2 separate regions of the Homo sapiens genome follow, and region 1 is linked to region 2. Evidence: fine-mapped expression QTL. Tissue or cell type: whole blood. Region 2 holds a variant in brackets; the other region holds the start of a gene. All regions are shown on one strand. Distances are between the middles of the regions.

The links. PIP is the estimated chance that this variant, and not a neighbour inherited with it, causes the effect.
Region 1: EIF3D starts here. The variant in region 2 is fine-mapped to the expression of EIF3D in whole blood (INTERVAL, PIP 0.92).

Annotation. Positions count from the first base shown.
Region 1 is chr22:36,526,646-36,532,197 of GRCh38, reverse strand. EIF3D (eukaryotic translation initiation factor 3 subunit D) reads left to right here and starts at 3,032. Exons shown (of 15, transcript NM_003753.4): 1 at 3,032-3,122. RefSeq lists enhancers at 2,762-3,161, 3,472-3,521.
Region 2 is chr22:36,457,675-36,463,538 of GRCh38, reverse strand. No RefSeq gene overlaps it. Among named protein-coding and RNA genes, the nearest start is that of TXN2, 21 kb to the left of the region's middle. RefSeq lists an enhancer at 1,557-2,089. The variant T/G (reference allele first, on the strand shown) is at 3,482.

The DNA of each region.
Region 1 (5,552 bases), 69 kb before region 2:
GGCAGGCGTGGTGGCACACGCCTGTAATCCCAGCTACTTGGGAGGCTGAGGCAGGAGAATTGCTTGAACCCGGGAGGCGGAGGTTGCAGTGAGCTGAGATTGCGCCACTGCACACCAGCCTGGGTGACAGGGCAAGACTCTGTCTCAAAAAAAAAAAAAAAAAAAAAGTGATAGCATTCAAGATGCATTGTGCAAGTAGAATAAAGAGAACATAGTGAAGAACTAAATGTGGGAGGGAAGGAAAAACGAACTACCAGTGATGACTACAAGGCTTTCCACTGGGCACAATTCACCAGACACCATTAACAAAAATTAGGAAAAAAAAAAAATGAGCAGTTGGGAGAGAGCTTATGGAAATAGGTGCTGCTATTAGCATTCTCATTTTTCAGATGAATAAGCAGGTTTAGAGAGGTTGAATAGGCCAGGTGCGGTGGCTCACGCCTGTAATCCCAGCACTTTGAGAGGCTGAGGCGGGTGGATCACAAGGTCAGGAGTTCGAGACCAGCCTGACCAACATGGTGAAACCCCGTCTCTACTAACAGTACAAAAAATTAGCCGGATATGGTGGTGGGCACCTGTAATCCCAGCTACTCGGGAGGCTGGGGCAGATAATTGCTTGAACCTGGGAGGCAGAGGTTGCAGCGAGCCGAGATCTCGCCACTGCACTCCAGCCTGGGCAACAGAGCGAGACTCTGTCTCAAAAAAAAAAAAAAAAAAAAAAAGAGGTTGAATAACCTGTCCAAGTTCACCCAAATGATAAGTGGAATTACTAAGTCCTTTCACACACATTTATTTTCACCCCCACAGCGCCCTCTAATTATCATCTTCAATTTACAAATAAGGAAACAAGGCAAGGAATGTGAAGGCCACACATAGCTATCAAGTGGCAGAGCTGGCTGGGCACAGTGGCTTATGCCTGTAATCCCAACACTTTGGGAGGCCGAGGCGGGGGGATCACAAGGTCAAGGGATTGAGACCATCCCAGCCAACATGGTGAAACCCTGTCTCTACTAAAAATATAAAAATTAGCTGGGCATGGTGGCGCATGCCTGTATTCCCAGCTACTCAGGAGGCTGAGACAGGAGAATCACTTGAACCCAGGAGGTGGACGTTGCAGTGAGCTGAGATCGCGCCACTGCACTCCCGCCTGGCAACAGAGCGACACTCCGTCTCAAAAAAAAAAAAAGAAAAGAAAAGAAAAAAAAAAGAATGTGGCAGAGCCTAGACTTCAGGTATATTTTCTAATAAAGGAGACATACTAGGCGGCTAAGGAAACCTATGTCAGGTAGAAAGGATCTGAGGTTTGAATAAAGTCATGCCCTCAGATTATCTTTCATTGTTTTAAAATTCCGAAAGAAAGACACCAGGAGGAACTCCATAGCCTGGGAGTTGCTGAGAGGACAGCACTGTTATCTACTGTAGTAAAGCAGTTCCTGAGTCGTCACTTCAGAATCACAGCTAATGCGGAGCTCTTGGGCTCCAGCATAAACATATCCGTATAATCTATCAAAATGAGACCCAGAATCTGAATTTTTAAAAATACTATCCTGGTCAGGTGTGGTGGCTCACGCCCGTAATCCCAGCACTTTGGGAGACCGAGACAGGAGGACTGCTTGAGCCCAGGAGTTTGAGACTAGCCTTGGCAACATGATGAGACTTCGTCTCCACAGAAGTTTTTTTTTTTTTTTTTAATTAGCCAGGCAGCCGGACGCAGTGGCTCACGCCTGTAATCCTAGCACTTTGGGAGGCCGAGGTGGGTAGATCACCTGAGGTCAGGAGTTCGAGACCAGCCTGGTCAGCAAGGTGAAACCCCGTCTCTACTAAAAGGAAAATTAGCCGGGCATGTTGGTACACGCCTGCAATCCCAGCTACTCGGGAGACTGAAGCAGGAGAATCACCTGAACCTGGGATGCGGAGGTTGCAGTGAACTGAGATAGCGCCACTGCACTCCACTCCAGCCTGGAAGACAGAGCAAGACTCCGTCTAAAAAAAAAAATTAGCCAGGCATGGTGGCATGCACCTGTAGCCTCAGCTGCTCCGCACGCTGAGGCGAGAGGACCACTTTAGACCAGGAGTTAAAGACCAGCCCGGGCAACATAGTGAGACGCTGTCTCTACAAAATTTTTAAAAATCATTAGCTGGCCGGGTACGGTGACTCATGCCTGTAACCCTAGCCCCAGTGGGTGGACTGTTGAGCTCAGGAGTTTGAGACCAGCCTGAGCAACATAGCAAAACCCCATCTCTACCAAAAATACAAAAATTAGGCAGGCGTGGTTGTGCGTGCCTGTGTACACCAACGACTCGGGAGGCTGAACTGGGAGGATCGCTTGTACCTGAGAAGTCGAGGGTGCAATAAGCCGTGATCCTGCCACTACATTTCAGCCTGGGCGACAGAGCGAAACCCTGTCTCAAAAAATAAATAAAAATAAATAAAAACACTGTTCCAGAAATCCCTGTCCTACAATTAAGTTTGAGAACTGCGGAAGTATGGTTTGAACTCTGGCGGTTAGAACCCTAAACTAACAGTCTGATCTAGGCAGGTCACTTGGCACTTCTGAGCCTCAGTTTCCACAACTATAAAGGCGGAGGAGTAACAATAAGGACCGCCTAAGACACCGACGGACCTCCCCTGCGCTGAGTTTCACATTAAGCAGGCAGGTAGAACAGGCGGGGAGTCGCGGGTGACGGTGGGATACATGGGGGCTGAGGCGCGCCGCGAAGCATTGTGGGACACAGAAGGGCGCCAGTCGCTCCCCGCCTCGAGCTTCGATTGCGCGGCCGCCAAGTTTCAGTGATGAACGCCCTCTTTGGGCGTCCCCGGATACCGCCTGACGTAGTGCCAATCACACCTCTCGCGTCTCGGCGCCTCGGAGGCTAATGAGGACGCCTGGCGAAACGCAGTAACGGATTTCCGGGTGGACCTTCGCTTTACGGCTCGTGAGTTCTTCCGCCCAACCCAGAGGAAGCGGGAGAGCAGTTTACGACAGCGCCGGTCGTGTTTACGGCGGCGCCCGCTGCGCGCGCATGTTTCCTCTTTTCCTGGTTTCTCAAGAGTGCTGCTGCTAACGCGGTCCCCGGCACGCACCATCTGTTGCCATCCCGGCCGGCCGAGGCCATTGCAGGTGAGCGGCGTGTTTCATAGGTTCCTGCGGCCCTCCGGAGCCGGTTCGGACTAGGTCCAGCCTTCGGGGGGCCTCCCGGAAGAGACCTCTCTTAGTCCCTTCCTGCTGTTGCCGTCCCTCCGCTGGGCGGGGCAGGAATCCACTTTCGGGGGCCCCGCGTCCCGCACGCTACTGAACGCGGGACACGACCTTGTGGGTGAGGTCCTTGGCCCTCGGCCCTGCTCAGTGCCCATGAGCTGGGTGAATTTGATTGTCACTTAACTCACCTGGGTTAAGACGGAGGGGTAACAACAAAGTCTTTCTGAAGTGGCCGAAAACTCCCTGACTTTTTGAGTGAGGTCTTAGGGGTACCAGGCTGAGCGGTGTTTGGCCCCTGTTCTTAGGAATTCACAGTGCATAGGTTATCTTTCCTTTTTTGTGAAACTGGAGGCTAGGATAGAGAAGTAGATTTGATCTCTGATCTTAAATCTACCCCACCCCCTGTTCAGCGATGGACGGCTTATGATCTGTAGTGGCCTGCCAACCACAGAGCCCCTTCTGAGTGCCCTCTTGGAACCTCCCTATCCTGCCCCTGTGACTAGTACAGCTGTTACTTCGTTTTTGCTGAGCGGCTCAGTTTCTCCTCCTGGTTCCGCTCTGCTCTTAAAAAAAAAAACATTTATTAAAGCCAGGGTATCTCATCCCTGGCTTTCCAGGGAGGTGATGCAGGTCGAGCCTCGGGCCTCTTCCCTTCTTGAGCTTCTGACAGAACCCGATTTTTTAAAGTGTGTTTTGAGACTCGTTGTCTTGGTATTATGATGTACGGTCTCAAACCCCTGATCTTTGCGGGCTGCTGCCCAGCTGTAATATAATGGAAAGAAGGCTGGACTGACAGCAGGCAACCCTGGAAATCAAATCTGTTTTGAAATGATGAGGTCAGCTGCTTGAGTAGGCTGAGCTTCAAATTTTTGCCTCTAAAGTAGGGGTGGGGGGGTGGTCAATGGTGTTAAATTATCTGGTATAGGGCCTAACACGTAGGAGCTCAGCAATATTTATTTAATACAAATTGTTCTGAGACCACCACCCTTTTTCTTCTGTCCTCTTCCTATAGTTTCTATTAGAAAGATGAAACTTCTAGGTTCATCCTGTGTTGCTGTCACCCAAATGTCATCTCTGAAGGAAGCCTCAATCTCCCCAGCATGGGGCTTTGAGGAGAGTTTACTAAGTTCAGCATACCTGTTCTTTTGATTGCTCTCCAGCCTCCAAGAAACATTTGATTTTTGTTTTTTTGAGACGGAGTCTTGCTCTGTTGCCCAGGCTGGAGTGTAATGGCAGGATCTTGGCTCACTGCAACCTCCGCCTCCTGAGTAGCTGGTATTACAGGTGCCCGCCACCACGCCCAGCTAATTTTTGTATTTTTAGTAGAGACTGGGTTTCACCATGTTGACCAGGCTGGTCTCGAACTGCTGACCTCGTGATCCGCCCACCTCGGCCTCTCAAAGTGCTGGGATTACAGGCGTGAGCCACCGCGCCCGGCCTCCAAGAAATACTTGTGTAGTGAATTTTCCTCTAGGAACTCGCCTTCTAAGCATTTTCAGAAGGTTACAACGGAAGATAAATGCATAGGTTTTTTTATAGAAGTGTCGGGCAGCCATCTGCTATACAGCGCCGGTTTTTTAATTCCCAAGAGGGCTATAGCATTATGCAGAGTGCAGACTCTGGGGTCAGACTGCTTTGGTTCACGTTTTTCATCCACTAGCATTTCAACTTTGGGCAATTTCTTCATTTCTCTGTGCTTTGGTTTTCTTATCTGGAGAGTGCGGATAACATTGGCTCCTACCTCACAGGATTGTTGGCAGGACTGTATGAATGAATGAGTGGTAAACAGTAAGAACAGTGCCTGGCAGTATTCATGAACATTTAACATGGCAACTTTGGGCCTGAGGTCTGTGGGGACCTCCTTGGCCCTCTGGCAGTTCTTCTGCCTGGCTTTATGTCCGCTTGCACTGCACACAGGATTTGCGTTGATGGCAGAAAATTGAAACAATGAGAAAGGAAAATTGAATTTCAGGATATACTTAAAGATCTTTTTTTCTCAGCACTCTATATACATAAATGCACTTTTGCAAGTCTGAATACTTGTGTGGCATTATACAAAGTGCTTAGAACAAGGATCTTGTTTATTTTGCAGATGGAAAAGACTAAGGTGGCTGGACGTGGTGGCTCACGCCTGTAATCCCAGCACTTTGGGAGGTCGAGGCGGGAGGATCATTTGAGGTCAGGAGTTCAAGACTAGCCTGGACAACATGGTGAAACCCTGTCTCCACTAAAAACACAGAAAATAGCCAGGCGGCGCTTGCCTGTAATCCCAGCTACTCAGGAGGCTGAGGCAGGAGAATCGCTTGAACTCGGAAGGCGGAAGTTGCACGCCACTGCACCCCAGCATGGGTG
Region 2 (5,864 bases):
ACCCCAACAGCAGGGACCATTGTTACCGCCATTTTACAGACAAGGAAACTGAGGCTTGGAGGGCTTAAGTAACTTGGCATGAATGGAGTTCAGAGCTCAGATTTGAACTCCGATGTGGCCGGACACGATGGCTCACGCCTGTAATCCCAGCACTTTGGGAGGCCAAGGCAAGAGGATCGTTTGAGCCTAGGAGTTCGGGACCAACCTGGGCAACATAGCAAGACCCTGTCTTTACACAAAATTTAAAAAAAAATTAGCCTGGCATGGCGGTGTGCGCCTGTAGTCCCAGCTACTTGGGAGGGTGAGGTGGGAGGATCACTTGAGCCCAGGAGTTTGAGGCTATAGTGAGCTGTGATCTCACCACTGCACTCCAGCCTGGGTGACAGAGTGAGATCTTGTTCTAAAAAATAAAAATATAAAAAATAAATTTTATTTATTTATTTTATTGTTTTTGAGATGGAATCTTGCTCTGTTGCCCAGGCTGGAGTAGAATGGCATGATCTCTGCCCACTGCAACCTCCTTCGCCTCCTGAGTTCAAGCAGCTCTCCTGCCTCAGCCTCCCGAGTAGCTGGGATTACAGGCATTTGCCACCATGCCTGGTTAATTTTTGTATTTTTAGTAGAAACAGGGTTTCACCATGTTGGCCAGGCTGGTCTCAAACTCCTGACCTCAAATGATCCGCCCACCTCAGCGTCCCAAAGTGCTGGGATTACAGGCGTGAGCCACCGTGCCCGGCCCAAAAATAAATTTTAAAAAAGGGGAAAAGAATGAACCCCAATGTCTTTAATTTCAAATTCTCTTTGTTCTTGCTCATTAGCTATACTGCTTTCCTTTTGGGACAAGGTTTTCACCATTTTGAGCCCCAGTTGCACCATCTCCAAGTTGGGGCTCATGACAGTCCCTGCAAATGAGGTCACGGCTCAGCAGGTGGAAGCACGCTGGCACCGATTGGAAGTTCCAGAAGTGTTATCTGTGTGGCTTTCTCCTTTCCCCTACCCCCAGCCACATCTTAAACAGGAAACACCGGGCTTCCCAAGGTAAGGACCCCAGCACCATGGGAGGGGCCCGTCGCTGTACCAGGCTGAGGGCCTTACATTCAGCCCTGTGACCTGGCCCTGGTCCCTGCCACCACCTCCTCCTGCTCTGGAGCTGGCTTGGTGGTGCCTGTGTCTCAGGCAGCCCTAGGGAGTTGGAGGCAGTGACCTCACCCTTGGAGAATGCCCACTGGAATTCACCCTGAACCTGCTCCTCTGTTCTCCATGCCTCCCAGCCACTTCTGAGCGCACTCTCACGCTTACCTCTGTGGCAGCCAACGGAGCGTCTCCTGGGAGCAAGAACACTCCTGCTAGACAGCTGTTAACTACCAACTGGAGGACAAGCCAGTTCTCCACCTTCAGCCAGCTTGCTGGGTGAGCTTAGGCAAGTAGCTGTCTGTCTCTGGTCTGCCCCCTACCTCAGTGTCCCAGCAAAGAAGTCATCCAGTGTCCAGCCTCTGTGCCGATACCACCAGAGGTGCCTTCTTCGACCTAACACCTGTGGAAGGAGGGACTGATTCCATTTCATACATGTGGAGACAGAAGCCCAGAGAGGTAGTGACCGTGCCTAAGGCCACACCCTGGGAAATGGACTGAGGGTGGCTGACCCCATGCCCTGCTCCTCCTCCTCTGCCACACTGCTGCTCCCAGGAGTGTCAAAGGATCCCTCCTCTCATGCCCAGAGTAGGGACCTTGATCCGCTTTTTTTTTTTTTTAGATGGAATTTTGCTCTTTTCCCCCAGGCTGGAGTGCAGTGGCACAATCTTGGCTCACTGCAAGCTCCACCTCCTGGATTCAAGCGATTGTCCAGCCTCAGCCTCCCGAGTAGCTGGGATTACAGGTGCCCAGCTAATTTTTGTATTTTTAGTAGAGATGGGGTTTCACCATGTTGGCCAGGCTGGTCTCAAAATCCTGACCTCAGGTGATCTACCCACCTCGGCCTCCCAAAGTGCTGGGATTATGGGCACGAGCCACCGTGCCAGGTGGAGCCTCTCTTTTATCCACCTCCCCCAACCCCCACCCCACAAGGAGGCAGGAGATTCCATTTCCTCATGATCCACTCCTGAGGCGGGAATACTCTCTCCAGGCCAAACTGGCTACCTCAGCCAGCAAGCGTCTGTGCGGAGCCCCTCTGGGCCTGCTGGGTGATAGGAACTAGAGCAAGACACAGCCCCTGCCTTCCAGGAGTTCACAGCAAACACATGGACACATCTAAAGTCTAAATGCTACAGGAGAGATGACATTTACCACCATGGTGACAGAGTACAGACTGGCCGCAAGCCCTGAAAAGCAGCACATCTGCAAAAGGAGATTGTCGGGTAAAGCATGGGAAGGAGGTGATGCTTGAGAAAAGTTGTTTTTTGTTTTTGTTTTGAGACAGTCTAACTCTGTTGCACAGGCTGGAGTGCAGTGGTGTGATCTTGGCTCACTGCAACCTCCACCTCCCAGGTTCAAGCAATTCTCCTGCCTCAGCCTCCTGAATAGCTGGGATTGCAGGCACCTGCCACAAGGCCCAGCTAATTTTTGTATTTTTAGTAGAGACAGGGTTTCACCATGTTGGCCAGGCCGGTCTCAAACTCCTAACCTCAAGTGATCCACCCACTTTGGCCTTCCAAAGTGCTGGGATTACAGGTGTGAGCCACCTTGCCGGGCCAAGAAGAGTTTTGAAGAATCGACTGGGACTCGTCCTGAGAGGCAAGTGGTGGGAAGGGTATTCCAGGCAGAAGGGAGAGCGTATGCACAGCACAGAGGCAGGAAAGTCCATGGTCCATCCCAGGAGGAGGCTTTGGTGGGGCCTTGGAGTCACACAGTCCTGGCTCCAGTCACAGCCCTCTCCGTCACTAGCCAAGCCTCAGTTTCCTTCATCTCTGAAATGGGAGGACAGGACCCTCCTCATGGTTATGAGATCGTAAATGTAATGTCAGAACACAATGCAATTACGTGGTAAGCGCCCTATTAAACGCTTCTCTTATTGTGTGTTAGTAATGTGTATTAGTTTGCTAGGCCAGCCATCACAAAATATCACAGACTGGGTGGTTTAAACAACAGATGTTTATTTTTTCACAGTTCTGGGGCTGGAAGTCCAAAATCAAGGTGCTGGCAGGGTTGGTTTCTCCTGAAGCCTCTCTGCTTGGCTTGCGGGTGGCCACCTTCTTGCTGGGTCCTCACATGGATTTTCCTCTGGGCACACACATCCCCCAAGTCTCTCTCTCCTTTTTTTTGTTTTGTTTTGTTTTGAGACGGAGTCTCGCTCTGTCACCTATTACCCAGGCTGGAGCACAGTGGCACAATCTCGGCCCACTGCAACCTCTGCCTCCTGGGTTCAAGCGATTCTCCTGCCTCAGCCTCCTGAGTAGCTGGGACTACAGGCACCTGCCACTACACCTGGCTAATTTTTGTATTTTTAGTAGAGACGGGGTTTCACCATGTTGGCCAGGCTGGTCTC[T/G]AACTCCTGACCTCAGGTGATCCACCTGCCTTGGTCTCCCAAAATGCTGGGATTACAGGCATAAGCCACCATGCCCAGCCCAGTGCCAGTTTATGGAGGGGGACATGGAGGTACAGAGGGCTTTGGGTTATGACTCAAGGTCACACAGCTAGGAAGGAGCAGACAGGATTTAAACCTAGACAGTCTGACTCTGGGGTCCCTGCTCCTCTCCCCATGCCCTCTCCACCCTCCCACACACACAGCAGGAGCTCCCTGCACTCCACAAACACCCTTTTGCATGTCACTCAGCTCCGGTCAAACTGTTAACTTCTCCCCCATTGTCGGATACTAAGGAATTTTTCAGTTAATATTTTTCCATTATAAATGAGGTTGGAACAAACCTGTTTGAACATAAGAGCTTATTTCTTCTTTTGGATTTTATACAAGTGGGATTTCCAGGGCAAAGGGAGCATTTTATTGTCCCCGAGAGCGGGGAAGGAGTGAAACCCGAGCTGGGCCCCGCCTGCACTGCCCACCTGCCGGTTTACTTTGTGGGAGGGGAGGCTCGGCAGTAGGGATGTCCTGAGACTTGGCTCGGCACTGCCCCACCTCCAGCCACCTCTTTGTCTCTGCCGCCTCTGCCTTAGAAAGTTCCGGGCCCCAGCCAGGCACGGTGGCTCACGCCTGTAATCCCAGCACTTTGGGAGGCCGAGGTGAGCAGATCACGAGGTCAGGAGATGGAGACCATCCTGGCTAACACGGTGAAACCCCATCTCTACTAAAAATACAAAAAATTAGCCAGGCGTGGTGGCGGGAGGCTGAGGCAGGAGAATGGCGTGAACCCGGGAGGCGGAGCTTGCAGTAAGCCTAGATCGCGCCACTGTACTCCAGCCTGGGTGACAGAGCAAGACTCTGTCTCCCCAAAAAATCCAAAACAAAACAAAATAAGACAAAGAAAGTTCCAGGCCCCAAATCCTGGTTTTTCTGAGATTCTGAGTTCAAAATAATGGTTCCTATAAGGATATGGTCATTTTTTATTTTATTTTTGAGATGGAGTCTCACTCTGTTACCCAGGCTGGAGTGCAGTGGCAGGATCTCAGCTCACTGCAACCTCCACCTCCCAGGTTCATGTGATTCCCCTACCTCTCAGCCTCCTGAGTAGCTGGGATTACAGGCACCTGCCACCACGCCCGGCTAATTTTTGTATTTTTAGTAGACACAGGGTTTCACCATGTTGGTCAGGCTGGTCTGGAACTCCTGACCTCAGGTGATCCTCCCACCTCGGCCTCCCAAAGTACTGGGATTATAGGTGTGAGCCACTGCGCCCAGCCTGGTTTCCCATATGATTTCCCCTATTAGTAGTTCCCATCTCGAAGGGTCCCTATGATGTTGAGATAGGGAAGGAAGCTAGCAAGTTTGGAGCAGGAGAGGGAAATGGAAGCCCAGAGAGGGCAGGGGCCTTGCCTGGGCTCAGCCAGCAGCGAGAGCAGAGAATCCCAAGGTGGCCCTGAGCTCCCACTACCAGTCCTCGGTTTGCTCTTGACTGAGGCTGGCAGTGAGGTTGAGGGAGAGAAAATTATTTCTCAAAGTGGTGGTTGGGGAGTGACAGGAAGCAGTTCCCTTAGGGAGTCTCTTTCCCAAGGGTCAAATCCCTGGATCTTGGAAAGCTCGTTGTTTCACATCTGCACTTAGTTGCCCGACTGGGGACCCCATGCAGCCTGGGAATGACCGTGAAATGGCTGCCCAGTGGGCAGGGTGTTTGCTCTGCACTTGGCCCTGACCACTGAGCCACAGCCAGGCCGGCTGCAGGGCTGCAGCTCTCAGCCCACAAGAACAGGAGCCCCCGAAGGAGGGGCAGAGGCTCTGCTGGGCCAGGCCCAGGCCCTTTTTGCCCTACTCTGGCCCCACCCCCAGGGGCTGTGGGGAACAGGCAGAGAGGCCAGCTTCCTGGACAGTGGCCTGGGAGGATGAGGCAGGCAGGGAAGGAGCCGGAGCTGCTCGGGCCAGGGTAGCCTGGGAAGATGAAGTTGGTGTTTGGCTAGTGAGGCCAGGGCGCACCCCCACACTCACTCAGGCATGCGCGGCCTCTGGTGCCTCTCCAGAGGATGCATTTCCCAGAACTCAGCTCCCCACAAGTCATGACTTCAGGGCAGGAAGGCCCTCAGGGACCAGCTCCAACTGCCTGAGTTGACAGAGAAGGTCCAGGGCCAGCCAAAGGAAGGGACAGGCCTGAGGTCAGCTGGTGAGTGGCCACGTCAGGAGGGGGTTCTTCAGAAACCCTGGTCGATCACTCCCTTCTCCAGCCGTCGAGGAACCAAACTGTTGGCATTGTGTCTATACATCTGTCTCCCCCACCTGGCTAGAGTCCCACAGGTGGGGGCCAGCCTTCTCTCAGTTCCTGGTC